4 linked regions of the Homo sapiens genome follow. The protein of the gene in region 1 purifies or fractionates together with the protein of each later gene. This does not show direct contact. Each region holds a gene or a part of one and is shown in the gene's direction. Other genes may lie near its edges. The genes, in order: CCDC59, HERC5, MRPS5 and EDC3.

The links.
Region 2: the proteins of CCDC59 (region 1) and HERC5 purify together in Homo sapiens (affinity purification with mass spectrometry; 2 studies listed by BioGRID and IntAct, with this or other methods). This does not show direct contact.
Region 3: the proteins of CCDC59 (region 1) and MRPS5 purify together in Homo sapiens (affinity purification with mass spectrometry; 2 studies listed by BioGRID and IntAct, with this or other methods). This does not show direct contact.
Region 4: the proteins of CCDC59 (region 1) and EDC3 purify together in Homo sapiens (affinity purification with mass spectrometry; 2 studies listed by BioGRID and IntAct, with this or other methods). This does not show direct contact.

Annotation. Positions count from the first base shown.
Region 1 is NC_000012.12:82,351,779-82,355,404, reverse strand, and holds the end of CCDC59 (thyroid transcription factor 1-associated protein 26), read left to right. Parts: intron 1-810; coding exon 811-910; intron 911-2,092; coding exon 2,093-2,254; 3' UTR 2,255-3,102; downstream 3,103-3,626. UniProt on the Homo sapiens protein: Component of the transcription complexes of the pulmonary surfactant-associated protein-B (SFTPB) and -C (SFTPC). Enhances homeobox protein Nkx-2.1-activated SFTPB and SFTPC promoter activities.
Region 2 is NC_000004.12:88,467,078-88,474,118, forward strand, and holds part of HERC5 (E3 ISG15--protein ligase HERC5), read left to right. Parts: coding exon 1-127; intron 128-553; exon of another isoform or gene 554-629; intron 630-1,268; coding exon 1,269-1,345; intron 1,346-2,079; coding exon 2,080-2,183; intron 2,184-3,536; coding exon 3,537-3,596; intron 3,597-5,331; coding exon 5,332-5,425; intron 5,426-7,041.
Region 3 is NC_000002.12:95,084,847-95,090,827, reverse strand, and holds the end of MRPS5 (small ribosomal subunit protein uS5m), read left to right. Parts: intron 1-305; coding exon 306-442; intron 443-3,246; coding exon 3,247-3,471; 3' UTR 3,472-5,459; downstream 5,460-5,981.
Region 4 is NC_000015.10:74,664,987-74,672,027, reverse strand, and holds part of EDC3 (enhancer of mRNA-decapping protein 3), read left to right. Parts: intron 1-253; coding exon 254-573; intron 574-7,041. UniProt on the Homo sapiens protein: Binds single-stranded RNA. Involved in the process of mRNA degradation and in the positive regulation of mRNA decapping. May play a role in spermiogenesis and oogenesis.

The DNA of each region.
Region 1 (3,626 bases):
AAAGCAAACACTCAGTGTGGTGTACAATTTAAAACATATGAATTGTTTATTTCTGGAATTTTTCAATTTAATATTTTTGGACCTCTGTTGACTGCAGGTAACTGAAACCGTGGAACAGGGAAACCATGGATAAGGGGTGTGCTACTGTACTATAAAGTTGAAGGTGAATAGGACTGAGGACAGGTCTCTGGATTTGTGGACTAGGCAGTCACTAGTCACTAGTCCAAAGTCGCTAGTGATTAGTAGCTATTAAAATATTATATTGTAGTTACAGAGTATAGTGAAAAGTTGAATGATAGAGGAAAGTAAAGTTATTACTGAATCAAGGATGCTGAGGAAATGAATGGAATTCCAAGTAGTTGGATTAGCCTTGACAAAAAGGACATCTTCAGAGAGGTGAGAAGTAGTTAAAGATAGAACAGTTCAAAATGGTATCTAGATCCAAGGTATGGTGATTCATGACTAGGTAGGTAAAATGGAATAGAGAGGAGGGGCTCAGAAAACTTCGAGATTAAAGTTCATATATACACATAATTTTCTTAACATCCTTAAACAACAAGTTTAATTCTTTTTTCAGTCTGGCATTTCTATCATTCATATACTGGTTTCATTACTTTTAAAAGTTTTTTTTTTTAACATTTTAGGATTTTTCATAGCTTTCTATATTTTTTCCTAGTTGAAATATTTCTCTAAGAATCCCCATTTGTGCCTTTTATTTAATATATACTCTTAAAAGCTACAACTGTGTTTTTAATACCTTTTTGGACATTTTACTAATAAAGTCCTGTTTCCTCATCCCCCAATTAAAAGCTCCTTTACAATTCCAAAGAAAAATAAAAAGAAAACATCAAATCAAAAAGCACAAGAAGAATATGAACAGATACAAGCCAAACGTGCTGCTAAGAAACAAGTAAGTTCTACTTTGAAAATATTTAGTATAGTTTTTCTTATTTATCCTAAATATATATACTATACCTGTTGTGCTTCTTGGTGCTGGGCACACAGTATTCTCTCTGTAAATATTTGTTGAATGAATGAGTAGTCTGAGCAAAGGTAGAGGATTGCATCTTATTCCAAGTCCTTGCTTGTATTATGTCAAGCAATACTAGTAGGTCAAAAATAGGATTTTGAACACATTGTTTATAGGTCAATATTGTGAACATCTGGGACAAAGTTTCACTGAGTTTGGTCCAGGAACTTGCACTTGTTAACAAGCACCTCAAAAGATTTTTATGTATGATAAAACTTGAGAACCACTGACCTAAGAAAAATATAGATGATTTTCATAACATTACATTGAAGAAAGTAAAAGCAAAGGGGAGGTGTTAGAATAAAATACTTTTTTACTATAAAGAGGTGTTCTTGCCTGTTTAAAAAAAAAAAACAACTATTATTTTAGCTTAGCAAAAGTTAGCACTCTATTATTTAGAAAACCAGAATTGTAGACCAGAATTAGGCTTTTTTCAAATGAATACAGAATTACCCACAGCCTCAACAAAATTGTCATTTTGTTGTAACTGTGGTAGTTCTTGTTTTTCCATTGAAGTTTTATTGATCTGTAGCTTTAAAAAGTATAATGTGTCAGTTAAAAATACCCTAAAGATATGTAATTTTGCTTGTTTTTGCTTTAGAATATCTGTAATTAAGAATTCTTAACATCAAAAATGTTTTCATTGTTCTTAAGCTGGTGGCAGATTAGGAGAAAGCAGGAAAATTTCTTCATGGGAATACTGGACCAGTATTAACTAGCACAGCTTTATGCTTTTTCCAACCATCTGTCACCTTTGGAAACAGTATATCAGATGAAGTGCAGTAATGACCATTATGCTGTAAAACATTTAATGTCCTTTTAAAATTTTGTTTATATAGAGCTGGGGCTTTGTGATCATGAAAATTCTCTGTTATACCATGGGTCATTATAATATGAAGGCAAAGAGGGTACTTTGCTTCAATTAGGAGAAACAGTGCACATCTTGCAAAATAGAAGAGACAAACCTTAGAGTGTTTGCTTAGTAATAGCTATTTCAAGACAATTTCTGAACTGTATCTACTGTTTGTTGCTAATGAAAGTTACATATGTTAATAATTTTAGGAATTCGAGAGGAGAAAACAGGAGAGAGAAGAAGCCCAAAGGCAGTACAAAAAGAAGAAAATGGAAGTGTTTAAAATACTGAACAAAAAGACTAAAAAGGGCCAACCAAACTTGAATGTACAAATGGAGTACCTTCTTCAAAAAATACAAGAAAAATGTTAAACATTTTGTTCCTACAGGTTAAAATATCTGCTGCCTATTAGGTTCTTCTGTGACATGTGCCTCCCAGCAGTGAACTAAATTTGTCGACATAAACTGGATTGCTAAACTATGCTAAATATAAGATGTTCACATATTTTTATTATGGTAAAAAATTTTCTAAATATGTTCTACATGTTTCTTATTTATTTGCCTCTGAAGGAAGGTTGGCCTGAAGAACTGAAAGAACCTCTTATTTTGCAAGACAGGCCCAAGCATGTAATACTTTTGTACCATATGAGATTTATATGAAATAAATTTTTTAAAAATAAGGAATCAGAGCTATCAATGAAGCATTTCAATGAAATATTTCAATTTAGTAAACAGTTACGTTGTTTTAAAATTTATTTTAATGATGAGGGAGGCAAAGACTCCTCTTGGACTTTTTATTTATTTTAAGTACATGTTACAGGGTGATGGGTGCTGAAATAAACTGCCCTCACCATATAACAAAGCGACCTTCACAAAGCAGTGAACTCAAAGTCTGATATTTATAAACATTCCCTTAAATGGATGTACATGGCTTGTTAGTCTAAGGTCTTTTAAATAATGATGGAAACCCCACAGTGTCACAGCAAGAATTAAGCTTTCCAGTTCCTATGGACCCTATACTTTAAGAACATTATCTCTGTCTCCCTTGTTGGTACCCTTGTGAGCTGAGATAAGCCACTGGGATAACTGCTTCTCATGCTTTGCAAATTGCAGAAGAATGAGAAAGGCTTGAAATATATATATAGTCATTGTAAGCAAAAAGGGCTGACCAATAATACTTGCCAAATATTGAATAATAAAATTTTATAAATGATAGCAAATACAGTCTGAAATTGCATTAAGATTTTAGGGAGCTCTTTCAGTCTACTAATTTATTCTGCATTTCAAGATCAGTAGAAAGTGCTTAGATAACACTGAACTTAATCTTCATTGCATAGAAAAGCAATGCTTTAGAAATTTGCATTGCACTATATTGCATTTAAAGTAAGCAGCCCAGAAAGCCTAAATTTGGCTACATTGGTGAAGACACATCACATCATGATGGAGGATAAATTATTTCAGTAAATTGCTTTACAATTTTTGTGCATTTTCACTTCTAGACACTTAATCATGACAAAACATGGAAGGAGATCTAGTCCTTTTGAGAGACAAGTGAAAGTCAAATTATATTCATTTTAACGACTTTGTTAAAAGCTACTTTATGCAAAACTTATATTAAGGAGTTACTCTTTAAAATTCCAAAGTTCTTGTAGAGGAATAAATGCCAAGTAATGGTATAATGGGGGAAAAAGTAATCAGTGACAATCAGATAAAGCAAAAGGTTAAGATTTTAGTGTTATCAATG
Region 2 (7,041 bases), on another chromosome or scaffold:
GTTTCTGATTTGGGAAAGGTCTTTTCCTTTGGTTCTGGAAAAGATGGACAACTGGGAAATGGTGGAACACGTGACCAGCTGATGCCGCTTCCAGTGAAAGTATCATCAAGTGAAGAACTCAAACTTGGTAAATTCTATAGGAACATAGGGTTTGGCATAGTATCTTTTTAGAGAAAATGATTTTTCTAACTAGGTAATGTGGCAAAGAAAGCAACATATGACTATGAAGGGAGTTTCTCTAAATACTGGTTTCATTTTTTACTGGTAAACAATTCAAGAGTCAGTCTAATTTACTGAGGCAAAATAATTATTCTATATTACTCCTTCAGATTAGGATTAATGTGAATTTAAATGATAAAATAGACAATGGATTCAGAGGCATATGCAGCTCTCATTCCAGTTTGCAAGAGACTTACTAATTCTTGTAATTAGTTGTTTACTAATTCTTGTAATTGGCTGGTTGCCCTGGTTAAGTTGATCCACAGTCATATAAAACCCTCAGAATAATGAGCAATCAACGTATACCTGGCACTGAACTGTGCTCAGCACTTACTTGTGTTATCTCACCAATCCTTGTAACAGTTCCTGGGAGGTGTATTCTGTCACTCCTCTTTTACTGGAGGATAAAGAGACTTGGAGAGAAAAGGGTTAGCCACTTAATCATGGCCAGTAAGTGGTTTGTCTGGAGTTGAACCCGTGCCCTTTATGACCTCAGAGTCTGAGCTCTGAAACACTCCATTGTAGAAGCACCTTGGAGCATTTCTGTTACTTGTTTCTGAAAGCTTAGTGGTGACCTCAAGTAACAAAATCTACTCATTTCTTGTAGGAAAACGAACAGAGTTATTTCCTTAAGCAGCATGTATTATCTTTGATTCCTTATAACAGTTACATGGGCTTAAAGTACTTATATTCTTTATAGCCAGCAGTCATTGCTTAAATCTTGAAAACATGGTTTTTAGTAATGGGAGTTGAATTAAACTGATAACATTTAGCTAATCAAATATTTGCATTTTATATATAAATATTTGTATTATGTATATTAAACTGATGTCACATGTCCACCTTGTGAATTACCTATGTTTGCCAACTAGACTTTACTCCAAAGGATATGTATTTCAGCTGCTTAATTGGCAGAAAATGTACTAAGTTTTGTCTATTAAGAAGAAAAGATGACTACGTTTAAGAAGAATCTGAAGTTATTTAAATTGAACATGCATGTTTGTGCCAAATGACTTTCTAAAACTCTTACTCTTTGTGCATCCTTTCAGAAAGCCATACCTCAGAAAAGGAGTTAATAATGATTGCTGGAGGGAATCAAAGCATTTTGCTCTGGATAAAGAAAGAGGTAAAAATAGATCTCCAGGTGTTCTATAACCTGGTATTTTAAGCAAAACTAAGGGTTCTAGTATCCCAGTTTGGTGAATTCCAAAATCATCAGTTTACCAGGCTGACTTTTTGGGGGATAGCTGGACATTACTGATCCTTTATTGTCTAAACTACATCAGTATTTTCCCACAAAAATCAGCAGATTTTTCTCTGGTGAATGTCTAATCAGTGTGATTTCCATAGGCTATACTTACCTTTTGGGGGCTACTTGCCAATGATGTTTGGTCAGTATCCTTGCAAACAACAGAGTGACAGATTCTAAAAATGACTTTGCAGGCCAGTACTAAGAAAGACACCAAGGTTCATGGGCTTGCAAATAAAAAGTCCATAACTTCCCTGCCCTACTTCACCAAGTGAAATCGAGTTCCTCACACTTCTGCACACAGCTCTTTCAGGATCTTCCCTTCCCTTCAAGGCTGTCTGATGTTCAGTTTAATTTGATTGTATTTGTATAAAGTGCTGAGTGTTGAGTCCTCAAAGAAATTTACTTTCAGTCTAAGCCCCCTTGGACAAGAAAGTGGCAACCAGGCAAATGATTGATTACTTATTTGTTGAGTATCACTTTGTGATTGTCCCAGGGCTGTATTACACATATTTAAAAGTCAGTTTTACTCTCTAGAGTGTACCTAAAAGTTGGGTGCCTATCTCTGATGTGTCTAAATTATTGTATTTTACTTTCCTGTTTGTTTACAGAATTCATATGTTAATCTGAAGAGGACAATTCCTACTCTGAATGAAGGGACTGTAAAGAGATGGATTGCTGATGTGGAGACTAAACGGTGGCAGAGCACAAAAAGGTACACCCCACAGTCTGACTCTCTGCTTATATATCACTCTCAAGTATCATTTCCCAAACTGGTTCTGCACAGCAATATGAGATTTTGTAGTCAGGGTTTTCCAGAGAAACAAACTCATAGGATATGTGTGTATTTCTGTCTCTATCTTTATCTCTATCATGTCTGTCTGTCCATCTATGTATCTATGGAGGGGAGAGAGAGAGATTATTTTAAGGAATTGGCTTATGAGATTGTAGGGGCTGGCAAGTCCAAAATCTGTAGGGCAGGCCAGCAGGCTGGAGACTTGGGGAGGAGTTGATGTTGCAGCTCAAGTCTGAAGGCAATCTAAAAGCAGAATTTCCTCTTCTTTGGGTGACCTCAGCCTTTTCTCTTAAGGCCTTCAACTGGATGAGGCTCACTCACATTATGGAAGGTCCTTTCTTTTTATTCACTTGTTCAAGTGCTTTACTCAGTTTACCATTTTAAATGTTAATCTCATCTAAAAAAATACTTTCATAGAAACATCCAGAATAATATTTGACCAAATATCTTGGTACCATGGCCTAGCCAAGTTGACATATAAAACTAACCCATCACAACTAGCATGTAAGCGCCATGAGGACAGCTTTCTTTACTGTAGGGCTTCTCCAGGCCTCTGTTTATGTATATTGTGACTCTCTGGCCAGAAAATAGAGTCTATAGTGTTTCCCAGTCCCATTTGATCCTGGAACCATTAGTTTGTGTACCTGTTATTCTTAGCTGAACAATTTGTACCATTCTTCTCTAAACCATAGAACTCCTATAGGTTTACAGAACTCCTACCTATTCTTACAAACATCATCTTTTAGAAATATTTTTAGGTATGGCTTTCTAATTCTGGAAAATGATTGTACAAAGTAGTTGCACAAAATAGTTGCATCATAATTTGCAGAGCATAAATAATTAAGAACTGTACAACTACTTCTAAGATGAAACTGAGCATACTCCTTCCCCCATTTAATTTCTGGTAATTTATTTCTACTTCAGTGGAATAGAAATAAATAGGACTTGCATAGTTGGTGGGGTGGGAGTATTTTGTTTGTTCAAGAAAGTTCTGACCATAAATCAAGCCTTTCCTCTTTATTTGAGGCTTCTCTGAGTATGTATAAACTTTTTTATTTCCCATGTTTGCCACTGAAATTTTGAGATTTACCAAACAGAATGGACTTTTAGAAGCCAAGCCAAGGTAATATGCATACAGATAGGAGACAAATGGAGAGGTTGGAAGGATAGTTATAAGATGTGGTATTTATCATGTCTCATGCTGTAAAGAAAGAGGCTGTATGTATGTATACCATGTGATTTGGTTTAACCAGTGTCTTATTACTAATATAGGGAAATCCAAGAGATATTTTCATCTCCTGCTTGTCTAACTGGAAGTTTTTTAAGGAAAAGGTAATATATGTAATAAATTAATTGTATTAAATTGTATTAAGAGTACCGTGAAAGAGGATAAAAAAATGATTGGAGAGTAAAATAGCTGTGTGTTCATCCCTTTTTAAAAATTTTTTTTAACAAAAGTAAATATATGTTTGCTGTAGAAAATGTCAAAAATACACACAATAAAAAGAAAGTGAAAATCTTCCATAATCCATCACTTAAGAGTAATAGCTAGCACTTACGTATATGATTATATTTTTTCATGCAAATGTATTCTTTTAAAAAAAATGAGATCATACTGGTTCTTTGTTTTTTTCTTTTTTTTTTTGAGACAGGGTCTTGCCCTGTCGTTGCCCATGCTTTAATGCAGTTCTGTGATCTTGGCTCATTGTAACCTCTGCCTCCTAGGCTCAAGCAGTCCTCCCACCTCAGCCTGAGTAGCTGGGGCTTCAGACACATGGCACTACACCCAGCTAATTTTTGTATTTTTTTGTAGAGCCAGAGTTTTACCATGTTGGCCAGGCTGGTCTCGAACTCCTGAGCTCAGGCAATCTACCAGCCTTGGCCTCCCCAAGTGCTGGGATTTCAGGTGTAAGCCACCATGCCCAGCTGGATCATATTGTTTATACATTGTTTTCTACCTAATATTTGCCCATTTTACATTTTATTCTATCTTTTTTGGTAATTTTTTTTTTTTTGAGACAAGGTCTCACTCCATCACCCAGGCTGGAGTTACAGCATCTTGGTTCTTGGGCTCAAGCATCATCAAACTCTTGGGCTCAAGCAAAACTCCCACCTTAGCCTTCCACGTAGCTGGGACTACAGGCACGTGCCACCACCTCCTGCTAATTTTTTAGCTTTTGTAAAGACAGCAGCTTTGCTATGTTGCCCAGGCTGGTCTTGAACTCCTGGCCTCAAGCAGTCCTCCCACCTCAGCCTCCTGGTGTTGGGATTATAGGTGTGAGCTACCGCACCCAGCCGGTAACATAATTTAATGGCTGCATGACCTTCCATTAGAAGGTCTTCCATGAGAAGATACTTAAACATTTCATTAATAACTTTATATTGAAGTACTAAGAAATTATTGGTCAGAAGCCCTCTCTTTTGGTTCCCACTTTTCAGTCCATTTAACGGGAAGAAATGGATGTATTTTTTAGAAATGGGAAAAATGTTTATCTTTTTTCTGTCTTCCTTCCTTCCTTCCTGTGGTCAGTCCTTTCTTCCTTCCTTCCTTCCTTCGAAAAACCTTTATCTTTTTTCTATGGCCCGCCCTTCTTCCCTCCCTTCTTTCCTCCCTCCCTCCCTCCCTCCTTCCCTTCCTTCTTTCTTTTCTTTTTTTCTTTCTTTCTTTTTCTGAGGCAGGATCTTGCTCTGTCACCCAGGCTGGAGTACAGTGGCATGTTCACAACTCACTGCAGCCTTGATCTCTCAAGCTCAAGCGATTATCCTGTCTCAGCCTCCCTCTGTGGCTATTTTTTTTAAACTGGGAAATATTAATTTTTTTAATCTATTACAGATAAGACAGCATCTGAGTTAAAGTCTTATGGTATATACAGTTAAAGCAGCCTTGATATTTTTTGGTATTTTAGAAAAAATCATGTTTACTACATTGCATTTGGATTTAGACAATTTATTATAGTTACACACTTGAGAAAAAAGGTAATTTTGTTGAAATGGGGCAAGCTCTAGAAGAAACTTTGCATCTAGGGAGATAATCTAACAAAATACTTAATTTATCTTTCTTCTACAGAAGAACTACAGAAATGATGCCTGTTTATTTGGACTTAAATAAAGCAAGAAACATCTTCAAGGAGTTAACCCAAAAGGACTGGATTACTAACATGGTATCTTCAGATTGTTATGTGGAGAAAGAAAATACACCAGAATATTTCTTAAAAGAACTCAAAATTTCAGAAGAAATGTTTTGTGTTAAGGGATTCTCCGAGACCTTGTAGCATATTCAGATTAAGTTAAACTCAGATAACATTTAGGAGTTTGCCCTTTTAGGGTGAAATAGTTGGCATAGTAGTCACACAGGTTACAGATATTCTAAATAGTGTGTCTGTACACAAACACACATACACATATATGCATACACATTCGTAGAGGGAAGTTTTTCAACTCAGGGCTTTAGGAAGATGATTAAGGATTTGTTGAGATTGGTACACTAGAATAAGAACATTTTATATGCAAAGCATAAATGTAGAAATGAGAACATTTTTTCTGATATGAATATCCCTCTCACCAGGGACTGCCTGGATTCTTTTTTTTTTTTTTTTTCCATTCTACTTTTCTGTAGATTCTAGAATGTTCTTGTTCCTTATGGGATGATTGTTTCCTGTTTCAGCACTGTTACTGCTATCTTTAGGTTTTCTTTTTGCAGGTGCTCCAAACATGCTTCCTTTATTTTTATTTTTATTTTTTTGGAAACGGAGTCTCGCTTTGTTGCCCAGGCTGGAGTCCAGTGGTGCGATCTCGGCTTACTGCATGCTTCGTTTATTAATTTAGTTTTTCTTAATGTAGTTTTTATTATTTCCCTATTTTATTTTACTGGTTGATATGGGGATACTACTTTCTGTTCTACTCTCCATTTTTTTCTCTCTGGGTCGCACTGTAGTTCCTTCTTTCTTTCTCTCTCCTTCCCTCCTCCCCTCCTTCCTCCCTCTAGCCTCACCCCATTTTTTAATCTCTCTCTGTGTTCATATCCCTCTTCTCTTTCCCTCTCAATCTTTGATCTCTCACCCTTCCTCCTTTCAGCTCCCGCACTTGCTCTGTTTGCCACAACTAGCATTTTCTATTTCAGCTGCAAGTTTTCTCATTCGCTCCTTTCTTTCAAGGAAAGATGGAAAGTTCAGTTCTCTTAACTTTGGCAGAACCACAGCCCCACTGGGGGTCCGAGGTGAAATGGTTCCCTAATTATGTACCTTTATTGGGACCCTACAACACTTAGTGCTGCCTGTATCAACAACCCAGAAACTACTCAGTGGACTATTTCATCAACATTTGTTAGAGCTCATTTTCTTTTGTTTTCTAAAATCCTCCTGTGGGGGCCAGTTTAACTTTCTTTCTGTAAGATTCTGAGTCATTGCTACTAAATACAACCATGGAAAGATTACCAAAAATAGAAGCCCTTTTGTGCGTCTGTGAAGGGAAGGGATTGGATCAGTTCATCATTAAGGGCTCCTTCTGTTTACTAATTATACCTTGATTGTGCCACAAAAAGAACATATGGTATGTAAATGAAATAATCATAGGGCATCCTTGACCTCCATTGTTTCAGAATAAGATGATTGGATTAGAAGACCTGTAATGTTTCTTTCTATCTTGAGGTTCTGCGATACGGACTCTCAGACCTTTGGCATGTGTTCATTTATTCAGCAAACATTTGAATACTTGCTGTGTGCTGGGCACTGTAATGATGACTCGATGAAGAATAAAAGAGACATACTCCCTGTGCTTT
Region 3 (5,981 bases), on another chromosome or scaffold:
TCTGGGGTGCCAAGAATTTTCATGCATGTTTATTAATCTCAATAACAATCCTGTTTTTTTGCCCTCAAAATGTGTTCAAGATATTTGTAGATGTCATCTTCTTAATCCTTGTAGTATCCTGTTTGAGTAAGTGTCATCTTGGAAGTTAAGTAAGTTGTCAAGGGTCAGCTCACTAGGAAGTGGTGATACCAGAATATGAACCAGTTTCCCGAAGCCCAGAGCCTGAAGCCATGCGAAAGCCAGCAGGGTGACTCCTCCGGCTGCAGGCGAGTGGGCTGTGTTTCACCCGGTTTCTCCTTTTCTAGGTTACGGCCTCCGCTGCCACAGGGCCATCATCACCATCTGCCGGCTCATTGGCATCAAAGACATGTATGCCAAGGTCTCTGGGTCCATTAATATGCTCAGCCTCACCCAGGGCCTCTTCCGTGGGCTCTCCAGACAGGTAATCCTTTCCCGGGGTCTGAAACAGAGGTTCTAGTTTGTATTTCAGTTGTGTGTGTTGGGGCTACGATGCCCTGGGGCCTCCTGGAGATGCTTTCCTGGGGCCACCTGAGGAGTTGGGCATTCTTTGTTGTCTGTGACTGCATCAGTTTAGTTAAATCCATTGACAAGTTCATGAAAATTACCTTTTTTTTTTTTTTTTTTTTTTTTGAGACGGAGTCTCGCTCTGTCACCCAGGCTGGAGTGCAGTGGCGGGATCCCGGCTCACTGCAAGCTCCGCCTCCCGGGTTCACGCCATTCTCCTGCCTCAGCCTCCCAAGTAGCTGGGACTACAGGCGCCCGCCACTACGCCCGGCTAATTTTTTGTATTTTTAGTAGAGACGGGGTTTCACCGTTTTAGCCGGGATGGTCTCGATCTCCTGACCTCGTGATCCGCCCGCCTCGGCCTCCCAAAGTGCTGGGATTACAGGTGTGAGCCACCGCGCCCGGCCTGAAAATTACCTTTTAAAAAGTACTTCATGGGTTTTTCTAAGCAGCATTTTTAAAGCCAATAATTACAATCTACATGTTATTATGAAAATAACACCTGCTTGTTCTAAAGCTCCAACAGTATAGAAAAGTAAAATCAAAAGAGAAAGTTCATTTCCTAATTTAGTCCTTTCAGTTGGGGCTAGGATGAAGCACCCAGGGCACCTCTGCACACAGGGCAGGCACAGTCAGTTCCCTGTTACCTGTGTAGGTGGTTCGGACTGATGCCTGGGTTGGTAGGGAACTATGAACATTAACATATCAGGTTACTTTTCCTCATAGGTGGGAGCCCTGGGCCCGGCTCCCAATCACCCACCATGGAGGGCAGGGCTGTGACTGCACCGGGCCCCCATTCTTGGGCAGCTCCCCTACCTGCCCAGGAGGGCTGGCCTGTCTCTTGAAAGGATGGGTAGACCTTAGCATAGGTGGATGAACAGAAAAGACAACCAGGTTCAATAGGCTCCATTTGCTGAACTCTGTTAGCTGAGGACTTTGGCAGGCTTCCTGACATTTCAGGAGTACAGTGGTGGGTTTTAGGTAAAGTGATCCATGGAGTAATTTTACATGTCTCTGTTTAAAGTAGGAAAATTAAAAGAAAAAGAAGGCTTTGGGTAAAAGCCTTCTGTTTTCTGAACAGCTTTTGTGTGTGTTACTGTCTAAAACACCCTTCAGAGCACTTGTAAATTGAAACATTAGAGGTTTAATTAAGATGTTGATTTTAGATAGGTTGTATTTATGATCCAGTAGACTTGTTCTGTTTTTGGTTTTTGGTTTGTTTGTTTTTGCTTTTTGAGACAGAGTCTTGCTCTGTCACCAAGGCTTGGAGTGCAGTGGCTCCATCTCAGCTCACTGCAACCTCCGCCTCACGGGTTCAAGCGATTCTCCTGCCTCAGCCTCCTGAGTAGCTGGGACTACAGGCACGTGCCACCATGCCCGGCTAATTTTTGTATTTTTAATAGAGATGGGGTTTCACCATGTTGGTCAGGCTGGTCTTGAACTCCTGACCTCGTGATCCACCCGCCTTGGCCTCCCAAAGTGCTGGGATTACAGGCGTGAGCCACCGCGCCCAGCCTAGACTTGTTCTTTTATGTGATATCTTTGTTTTCTTTTAGTCTTTTAAACCTTCTGATATAGTTACCATATGTCATCTCTCCTAAAATGCCATCAGCTATAAAAGGTTGCATTATTTAATATGTCACTCAAAAAGGAAAAGATGCCACCACTTTAGGTGATATGCCTTTGATTGAAAGATACACCAATATAAATTATTTTGTTTATGAAATGGCTCATCTGTTTTCTAATTTCACACATACTGCAGGGCATTAGATATATAATTAGAATAGTGCAAGGCAGCCATAAGGCCTGGGATCACGGGATTGACATAGCAGGTATGTCATTGTACCATGAATAACGTCTACTGAACTAATCTGCCTGCTTCCAGATCTCTGTGGCTTCCCTCTGCAGTGAATCCCCATGGCCCTGTTACCCAGCTCATGACCAGTCTTGCTTCTTAGTACACCCCCAGTTATTTTGAACCAAATCTCAGACATTTTATTTCAACCCTAAATATTTTAGTATGTATCTTCGAAAAGATGAGGATTTTAAAAAATACCCTGTAATACTATTATCATACCTAAAAAGTTAACAGTAACTTGTATCATCAAATATCCAATCAATGTTCATACAAATGAGCAAATTCCATTTGTTAGATTAAAAAAAATTTTTTTTTTTTTTACACAATGTGTTTGAATCAGGTTGCAGAACAGGTTAATGTATGTTTTTGCTATGCCTTTTAAATAGGTTCCCCTCCTCTTCCCCCACCCCCGCCCCGCTTATGATTTTTTGTTGAGGAAACCAGGTTGTTTGTTTTGTAGTGCTTCCTGGCCTGTTGCTGACTAAAATACCTGTAGGGTCCTTAGTGTCTTATCTCCCCTATATTTACTGTAAATTGGTAGTTAGATCTAGGGGGTTGGTGAGATTCAAGTTCAGTGTTTGGCACAGCATGGTGCATAATCAGGAGGGTTTAGAAGGCAAGAGACCAGAGGCCAAGGCCCTTCCTCTATCCAAGTTTGGGGTGGGCAGATGCAGCAGATGAGGCTGAAATGACTCCACCCATGACAGGTTATTAGAGTTTAGCCACAAAACACATTAACCCAAATCCACTGAAATGGCCTTTGAATACCCCCAGGCTGTACTGTTGTGGCCTGTGGAAGTTCCTGCTCTTTATGTTGCAAATGTACTTCAGACCTAACCTGTTCTGAATTTGGTCTTGCTTAGGAAACCCATCAACAGCTGGCTGATAAGAAGGGCCTCCATGTTGTGGAAATCCGGGAGGAATGTGGCCCTCTGCCCATTGTGGTTGCGTCCCCCCGGGGGCCCTTGAGGAAGGATCCAGAGCCAGAAGATGAGGTTCCAGACGTCAAACTGGACTGGGAAGATGTGAAGACTGCACAGGGAATGAAGCGCTCTGTGTGGTCTAATTTGAAGAGAGCCGCCACGTAACCTCTCTGGCCTTGTGCAGCCAGTTCCTGTGCTGCCCTGCACCTAGGAGAGACTCAGCCCCTCACAGCTTGGGATGTTACCTTGCCTTTTGTTTGTTTTGAGGGAAGTTTAATCTTTAAACTCTTTGGAAATAAATAATTATAGCTTTCATTTGTTGAGCACATGTTATATGCCAATGTGATAGAACCTTTACATACATATCTCAGTTCAAGACTACTTTAAATATTCATCCAAAGTAACAAAAGTAAATGAATTAGGGAGACGGGGTTAATAATTTGACCCAATCAGTAATAATGTACACAATGATAATTGCTGTAGTAATTATAGCTAATATATATGAACTCATTCATCCAAAGTGAATGTGATTAACTTCATTTTACAGAGCAGTTAAGTAACTTGACTACCGTGAGGAACTTCCAAACCGTTTTCCACAGTGGAAATGGAAGTTGTAGGCTACTATTGGGAATGTTAAATGGTATATTAATTGTATACCATTGCAATTTTGACTTGTATTTCCCTGATGGCTGATGATGTTGAACATCTTTTCATGTGCTGATTGGCCATTTGTATATGTTTTTTGGAGAAATGTCTATTCAGAGCCTTTGCCCATTTAAAAAGTTATTTTTTATTATTATTGAGTTCCTTATAGTTTCTAGATATAAGCCCCCCTATCATACATGCTTTACAGAAGTTTTTACCCATTCTGTGGAATATATATATTTTTATTTCTTTGCATACTCTTTCTGCCCCACCCACATCCTCTTTCTGGGACACTGATGACCAAAATGTTGAATCTTTTACTATTGTCCCGTGAGTCCCTGAGGCGCTGTTTATTTTTTTTCCAGTCTGTTTTCTCTGTGTTGCTCAGTTTAGGTAATTTCTATTGTTTTATCTTCAGAATAACTGGTTATTTACTCTTTCCTTTCCATTCTGCTCTTGAACCATCCATGCAGTACTTTAACTTTGACTGTCATTGTATATTTCAGTTAAAATTTCCATTTGGTTTATTTTTTATGTCTTCTCTTTATTTGCTGAGGCTATTTGCTGAGACTTTTTTTTTCTTTAAATGGCTTCAAGAGTGTTTATAATTGCTCACTGAAGCATTTTTATGGTGGCTGCTTTAAAATCTTTGTCATCAGGTAGGTGTGGTGGCTCACGCCTATAACCCCAGCACTTTGTGAAGGTGAGGCAGGAGGATTGCTTCAGCCCAGGAGTTTGAGATCAGCCTAGGCAACAAAGTGAGACCTCATCTCTACAAAAAGTAAAAGTAAATTTAAAAGTTAGACACACATGGTGGTGTATGCCTGTAGTCCCAGCTACATAGGAGGCTGAAGTGGGAGGATCATTTGATTGCAGGAGGTTGAGGCTGCAGTGAGCCTTGTTCATGCCACTCCAGCCTGGGTGGCAGAGTGAGACCTTGTCTCCAAAAAAAAAAAAAAAATTGTCATAAAGTTTCAACATCTGTGTCATCTTAGTGTTGACATCCCTTGAGGTTTTTTCTCATTCAAGTTTACAATGTCCTAGTTCTTGTTATGATGAGTGACTTTGGCTGTATCCTGGTCATCTTCACTGTTATGAAGCTCTGGGAGTTATTTAAATCTCTCAGCATGCTTCCTCTGACGGTGCTGGTATGGGATGGGGCACTGCCTCGTTACTGCCTGGTGAGGATGGAGATCCAGGTTTCCTCCTGTCGCTGTCCTCGGGACCTCTGCTGAGGCCTTTCTGCTGGAAGTAGGAGGAGCACCCTAATGGCACCGTGGGATAGGGAGCAGGCCATGTTAGGCTGGATGGTGAAAGTTTTCAGCCTGTGACGTTGTCTGGTGTGGGTGGGTCCCCTTTTTTTGTGTGTGGTATTTTGCTAGAGTAAGGTAGTTATTTCCTAAAACTTATCTGTCCTGTTAGTTTTCCTTCTTAAGTACCTAACAAATATAAAGACAATGAACTTTAAGCAATAAAAGACAATGATCCTTTGGAGAGGGGAAACAAAATTATCTGTACTTACTATCTGCGGAGAGTCCGTGGTTCTAGGAAGGGTTACCCCATCAGGACCTGGCGGTCTCCTGGAGTTGAGGTGCAGTTGGGCAGTCGAAATGACTAGAGTTCACAGGGGAGAATGCCTTGGAGGAGAGAGTTGCACAGCAGGAGAACTAAGATCTGCAGAGAGTTTCCATCAGATATTTAGTTACACACTAATAGTGCATGCCGGTGAGGAAACTCACCCAAAAGAATTAGAGGGAACAGTGTTTGGAGTGGAAAATAGTGCCTGTTATCAACAGTCACAGTGGAAAACCTTGTAATCTAGGTGGCATTGGAAGAGAACTAAGATGCCCTAGTAGTAGAAAAATTAACTCTACATAAAAACTACCCCTGGTCCCAACTCAGAAAGCTTAAAAACAAGACCAAACTGGAACACAACTGTTTCAAAGTAACTTAATTGTGTTCCAGAACAAAGCTCAAGAATATAGGAATACAAAAAATATACCCAATAAAGTAAAATATACAATACTTGG
Region 4 (7,041 bases), on another chromosome or scaffold:
GGCCTCCCAAAGTGCTGGGATTACAGGCGTGAGCCACCGTGCCCGGCCAATAGCCTCTTTTTAAAGGCTAGCATTGTGTCAGTTGGATAGTTGGTGGCTGACCCCTGTCCTTAAGCACACAGCCCCCTTTCCTAGCCTCTGATAACTCAATAAAATGCAGTCCTGCAAAGGGGTAGCTGTTTGCTAATGATCTCAGTTTCATCATTCTTACCACTATTATAATTTTGAGACTTGGCTTTTTTGTGTATTTCAGGGCAGGTGACATTACGGAGTTAAAAATTCTGGAGATACCAGGACCTGGAGACAACCAACATTTTGGAGACCTTCATCAAACAGAATTAGGCCCCTCTGGTGCTGGCTGCCAAGTGGGCATCAATCAGAATGGCACAGGCAAGTTTGTCAAGAAGCCAGCCTCTTCCAGCAGTGCCCCTCAGAATATCCCTAAGAGGACAGATGTGAAGAGCCAGGATGTTGCCGTTTCCCCGCAGCAGCAACAGTGCTCAAAGAGCTATGTCGACAGGCACATGGAATCCTTGAGTCAGTCCAAAAGTTTCCGTCGTCGGCACAACTCCTGTAAGTAGGGTCAAGTTGATATTTCTTCTCAATCTGGTGTTTCAGGGCTATAAGCCATAAGCACTGCTGCTCTTTAAACAAATCCTTTGTTATTCCAATAAAATGGATGCTGGCTGAGCGTCACAGAAATACAACATGGTTCTCTTCCTCCAGGCCTCATTCCTCAAGATGTTAAGGGAAAGGAAATAAGCTGTTAGGGATGCCTGTGAGCTTCCTGCCCTCTCTTACCACTTCCTTCAGGAAAAGTCTGCCCAGAGTTTACTAACAGTGATGTTTTAAATCCAGGAACTACTGGGCGTGGTGGCACGCATCTATAGTCCCAGCTACTTGAGAGGTTGAGGCAGGAGGATTGTTTGAGCCCAGGAGTTCAAGGCTAGTCTGGGCAAAATAGTGAGATTCTGTTTCTGAAAAAGAAAAAAAAAAAAACTTAAATCCTGTTACTGATGTTGGTAGTAGTGTTTGAGTTGAACCTGCACTTGGGCTGTTCCAGAGGATTCTTGAGTAACTTTTCTTCCTGTGATTTGAGTCTCATCCTCAGAAGAGAGGAGGGGACTGATCCAAACATCTCTGTGATCTTTGATTTTCTAGCAGACAATTTTTAATTTGCTGTATTTGTTCCTACTGACACACCAAGAAGAATGTGCATTGGTCTCTGTTGCTGCCCAGTTTTGTTTGATACTAACACATTATTAAATGCCATTTGCTGATTATAAAACCATAGTTGTGACCAGGCACGGTGGCTCACACCTGTAATCCTAGCACTTTGGGAGGCTGAGGCGGGCAGATCACCTGAGGTCAGGCGTTTGAGGCCAGCCTGGCCAACATGTTGAAACCTCGTCTCTGCTAAAAATACAAAAATTATCCGGACGTGGAGGTGCATGCCTGTAATCCCAGCTACTTTGGAGGCTGAGGCAGGAGAATCCCTTGAACCCAGGAGGCAGAGGTTGCAGTGAGCTGATATTGTGCCACTCCAGCCTGGGCGATAGAGCGAGACTCTGTCTCAAAAATAAAATAAATAATATAAAATAAAACCATAGTTGTGTTGGTGGTATGATGGTGAGCATAGCTGCCTTCCAAAACCATAGTTAATTCACTAGAACTGTTCTTCTCCAACATATTTACTAGAATAATGTTACAATAGCGAATCATAACATTCACTGGAATCTGTTATGCTCCTTAAATTAATATGAATGTTGTTTTAAAAAATTACTTCCAAATGCCAAACTATTCTTATTTTACTTAGATGGTTTTGTACTCACAGATGGTAGCAGAATGTATTAGAAATTTTAAGTGAGAGGCTGGGTGCAAGTGGCTCACACCTGTAATCTCACTACTTCAGGAGGCTGGGGCAGGTGGATCGCTTGAGCCCAGGAGTTCGAGACCAGCCTGAGCAACATGGCAAAACCCCATCCCTACAAAAAAAAAAAAAAAAAAAAAAAAAAAATTAGCTGGGCGTGGCAGCGTGCACCTGTGGTCCCAGCTACTCAGGAGGCTGAGGTGGAAGGATGGCTTGAGCCAGGGAGGCGGAGGTTGTGATTAGCCAAGATCATGCCACTGCACTTCAGCCTGGGTGACAGTGTGAGACTGTCTCAAAATGAACAACCAAAAGAAATTTTAAATGAGTATTCATTAACTCATTTAAAATTATAAGCTAGAGTCATGCTATGGCAATACCTTCTAAAAGGCACAATTTAGAGTGAGCTAGGTCTCTCTAGACCCCACTCAGAAAGTTTATTACATAAAATTCCGGATACTTCTTGCTACCATTGTTGCTCCTCACACTGTGGTCCTGGTGGCAATGTAGTAAGGTTTTAGTGTGCTGGGTGAATTCTATTAGTAGCTTGTGGTGTGACACCTGTGTCAGGGGCCAACATTTTAAGTTTTGGAGATGCCTGATTCAAGTGAATAAACAACTAAATTAAAACTAATTTTTTTTTTTTTTTGAGATGGAGCCTTGCTCTGTTGCCCGGGCTGGAGTGCAGTGGTGTGATCTTGGCTCACTGCAACCTCCACCTCCCATGTTCAGGTGATTCTCCTGCCTCAGCCTCCCTAGAAGCTGGTACTACAGGCACTTGCTGCCATGCCCGGCTAATTTTTTTTTTTTTTTTTTTGAGACAGAGTTTCGCTCTTATTGCCCAGGCTGGAGTGCAATGGCGTGATCTTGGCTCACCGCAACTTCCGCCTCCTGGGTTCAAAAGATTCTCCTGCCTCAGCCTCCCGAGTAGCTGGGATTACAGGCATGTGCCACCACGTCTGGCTAATTTTGTATTTTTAGTAGAAACGGGGCTCCATGTTGGTCAGGCTGGTCTCAAACTCTCGGCCTCCCAAAGTGCTGAGATTACAGGCATAAGCCACTGCGCCCGGCTAATTTTTGTATTTTTAGTAGAGATGGGATAATGCCATGTTGCCCAAGCTGATTTCGAACTCATGACCTCAGTTGATCTGCCTGCCTCGGCCTCCCCAAGTGCTGGGATTACAGACGTGAGCCACTGCACCTGGCCTAAAAAAATGTTTTAATGTATGTAATATACAGTTTCAAGGTAGTTTCCTTTGGTGCATATGAAACAACTATCTGAAATGACGATGTTTGCAAATATGAGACTGAAATTCAGTTGTGACTTCTGTATCCTTAGAAAAACTGTAGAATGCTTGGATAGAAAATGATTCTTTCCATTTAGACTTTAACCTTTTTCTTTCTTTCTTTCTTTCTTTCTTTCTTTCTTTCATTCATTTTTGAGACAGGGTCTTGCTTTGTCACTCAGGTTGGAATGCAGTGATACGATCACAGCTCACTACAGCCTTGAACTCCCAGGCTCAAATGATCCTCCCACCTCAGCCTCCTGAGTAGCTGGGACTACAGGTGTGTGCCACCATACCTGGCTAGTCTTTTTACTTTTAGTAGAGACAAGGTCTCACTATGTTGCCCTGTCTGAAAATCTTTTTTCTTTTAGCAGAAATTGTTGATTTGTTAGAAGTTCAAATAGGCAGTTTATAATCTTCCGTGCACTTGAAGATGACCCTTATTAGCAATTCATATTATTTTTTTCTACACATTTTTCCCCGTTATTAACGTCTTACATTTGTATGGTATACTTGTTATAATTATTGAACCAATGTTGATGCATTATCATTAAACAAAGTCCATATTTTATTCAGATTGCCTTAGTTTTTACCCGGATGCCCTTGTTTCAGGATCCTGTCCAGCATATCACATCATATTTGGTAGTCATTTCTCTGCTTGGCTCTTACAGTTTCTCAGACCTTCCTTGTTTTTGATGACCTAGACATTTTGATGAATACTGGTCAGGTATTTTGTAGAATGTCTCTCAGTTGGTACTTGATGTTTAAATCATGATTAGACTGGGGTTATATGTTTGGGGGTGGAAGACAACAGAGGTAAAGTACCATTTTCATCACCTTGTGTCAAGTGTATATATTATCACCATGGTTTATAACTTTTGATGTTCACCTTGATCACCTGGCTAAAGTAGGATATATCTAGTTTCTCCTCTGTAAAGTGACTCTTTCTTCCCCTTTACATATGTACTCTTTGGAAGGAAATCACTATGTGCAGCCCACACCCAGGGAGTGAGAAGTTATGTCCCCTCTCCTTGAGGACACAGCATCTTCAGACATTACTTGGAATTCTTTTATGCCAGAGATTCCTCTCTTCTCCCCCATTTGTTTATTTATTCAGTCATTTATTTATATCAGCATGTACTCATGGGTATTTATTTTATACTTTGGCTTATAATTCAATATTACTTTATTTTGGTACTCAAATTATTTCAGTTTTGGCTAGTCTCCAATCTTTCACTTGGATCTCATGTCCCTTTGACATACTCCAATCATTGTGGATTTTATTTTTTTTTTTTTTTAGTACTTAGGTACTTTCTCACACTGAAAGATGCTTACTACTACCACTACTACTACTACTACTGCTGCTGCTGCTGCTTCTCCTCCTCCTCCTCCTCCCTCCTCCTCCCTCCACCCCCTCCCTCTCCCCCTCCCTCCTCCCCCCTTCTCCTTTCTTTCTTCTTCACTAGGGATGCTCATTGCTCCTGGGTGTCACCCTTATAGCTGACAGCAAGAAAATGTGTATACTTCTCTGCAGAGTTCACAGAAAAGAAAATATATGTGTGTATATTTAACCAGCATATATATACATATTTAAATATTTCTATATGTAACTATGTATATTGTACTATACTAAGTATGAGTTCATACTGATGTCTCCAACTTTAATCCATTACCACATGGATCCTTCTAGCCTTCTCCTTTTGCTTGTCTGTTACTTCTCACTCCAACAGTGAGAAACCTGTCTCCTATTGTCATTCATTCTTTACATAATTATTCAATTCCAGTATACATGTATAGTGGTATCAGAATTATTAACTTGTATCGCCATTCCTGTGGGAGACTATCAAACAGAATGTGGTGCTTACGTACTGTTTCTTTTGCCTTTCATCTGACTCCATTCATTTCTAGAGTTATTTAGGTCTCCCATTTCCTTCATTGACTTGTTTCATATATTCATAATACAATTAATTTGTTTTATCACATTCTGCATTCCATCCTGGGATCTTCTAACCTCCTAAATGATTTTTAAAAATTTGCAAACACTAAGGCTCACTCTTTGTGCTGTAAAATTCTGTGGGTTTTGACAAATACATAGCATCATGTATCTGTCATTACAGTATTAAACAGAATAGTTTCATTGTCCTAAACAATCTCTTGTGCCTTACCTGTTCAACTTCCCCCACTTCCCCCTGGCAACTACTGATCTTTTTATTATACCATCCCTGCAGTTTTGCATTTTTCCAGAATATCACATAATTAAAATCATACAGTATGTAGCCCTTTTCAGACTGGCTTCTTTCACTTAGCAAGATGCATTTAAGATTCATTCATGTCGTTTTGTGACTTGATAGGTCATTTCTTTAATTGACGGATAATGTTCCATTGTGTGGATATATCAATTTGTTTACCCATTCACCTATTGCAGGACATCTTGGTGGCTTCCAGGTTTTGGTTATTCTGCTTTTGCTGTTTTGTCAGTTTCCTTTTTCTAGATTGTTAACTGTACATAAATGAGGTAAAGAGATCATAGGGCAGTAAAATGTTACTATTTTTCAAGAAACTTATGTAGAATCCAGATTAGTTTGGAAAATGTTTGTGGCCTGGGAATGGCAATAAGACGTGGCTCAGAATAGGTTTCTGATAGAAGGTAGAGTTATAATTATTTTTCCACTCATTGAGCCCTGTAAGTAAAAAGGTCTGCCTTAGAATTTTCTCCAGTTTATGTACATTGATATTGAGACTAGTAGATTGATGAAGCTATAGAAATATAATCTGTCGGCCGGGTGTGGTGGCTTATGCCTGTAATCTTAACACTTTCGGAGGCTGGGACGGGCAGGTTGCCTGAGCTCAGGAGTTTGAGACCAGCCTAGGCAACATGGTGAAACCCCGTCTGTACACAAATACAAAAAATCAGCTGGGTGTGGTGGTGGGTGCCTGTAATGCCAGCTACTCAGGAGACTGAGGCACAAGAATTGCCTGAACCTGGGAGTCGGAGGTTGCAGTGAGCTGAGATTGTGCCACTGCCCTCCAGCCTGGGCAACAAAGCAAAACTCTGTCTCAAAAAAAAAAAAAAAAAGGAAAGAAAGAAATATAATCTGTCTTCAGTTCTGGCTTTTAAGTGTTCTTTCAGGATTGCAATAAGGAGTTGAGGAATTTGTTGGTTTATAATAGTTAGCTAATCCAACACTGATGATTTAGCACAAGCAGATTTTAATCTCTTTTCGGGTGGGAGTGGGTTTAAAGAATCATGTAAAGAATAGTTTTTCTGTGACCATTCAGAATGTTTGTCAAATAGACATAACATCAGTCCCAGGGAGCAGAGGGAAACCAAGCCTTGTTTAGGGTGCAGCTCTGTGTATGGGTATAATTCATATTTATCAAATCCCATGTCACAGCTGAAAATGGTGACCATGAGGGGCAGATGAAAGGCATCCCTCTCTGAAATCTTAGTCTATGAGCTTGAATAGTCATTGTAACATGCAGTTGAATAAAAATTTAACAGTTAAGTTAAGGCTCTTTTGCCTGTAGAACATGAAAGTAGATAGCTGAGGCTGGGCATGATGGCTGATGTCTCTAATCCCAGCACTTTGGGAGACTGAGGTGGGCAGATCACCTGAGGCCAGGAGTTCGAGACCAGACTGGCCAACATGACGAAACCCTGTCTCTACTAAAAATACAAAAAATTAGCTGGGCCTGGTGGTGCATGCCTGTAATCCCAACTACTTGGGAGGCTGAGGCAGGGAGAATTGCTTGAACCCGGGAGGTGGAGGCTGCAGTGAGCCGAGATCGTGCCATTGCACTCCAGCTTGGGCAACAAGAGTGAAACTGCATCTCAAAACAAACAAAGTAGATAGCTGGCCTTTAACTCATTTATATTTAGAGAGAGGT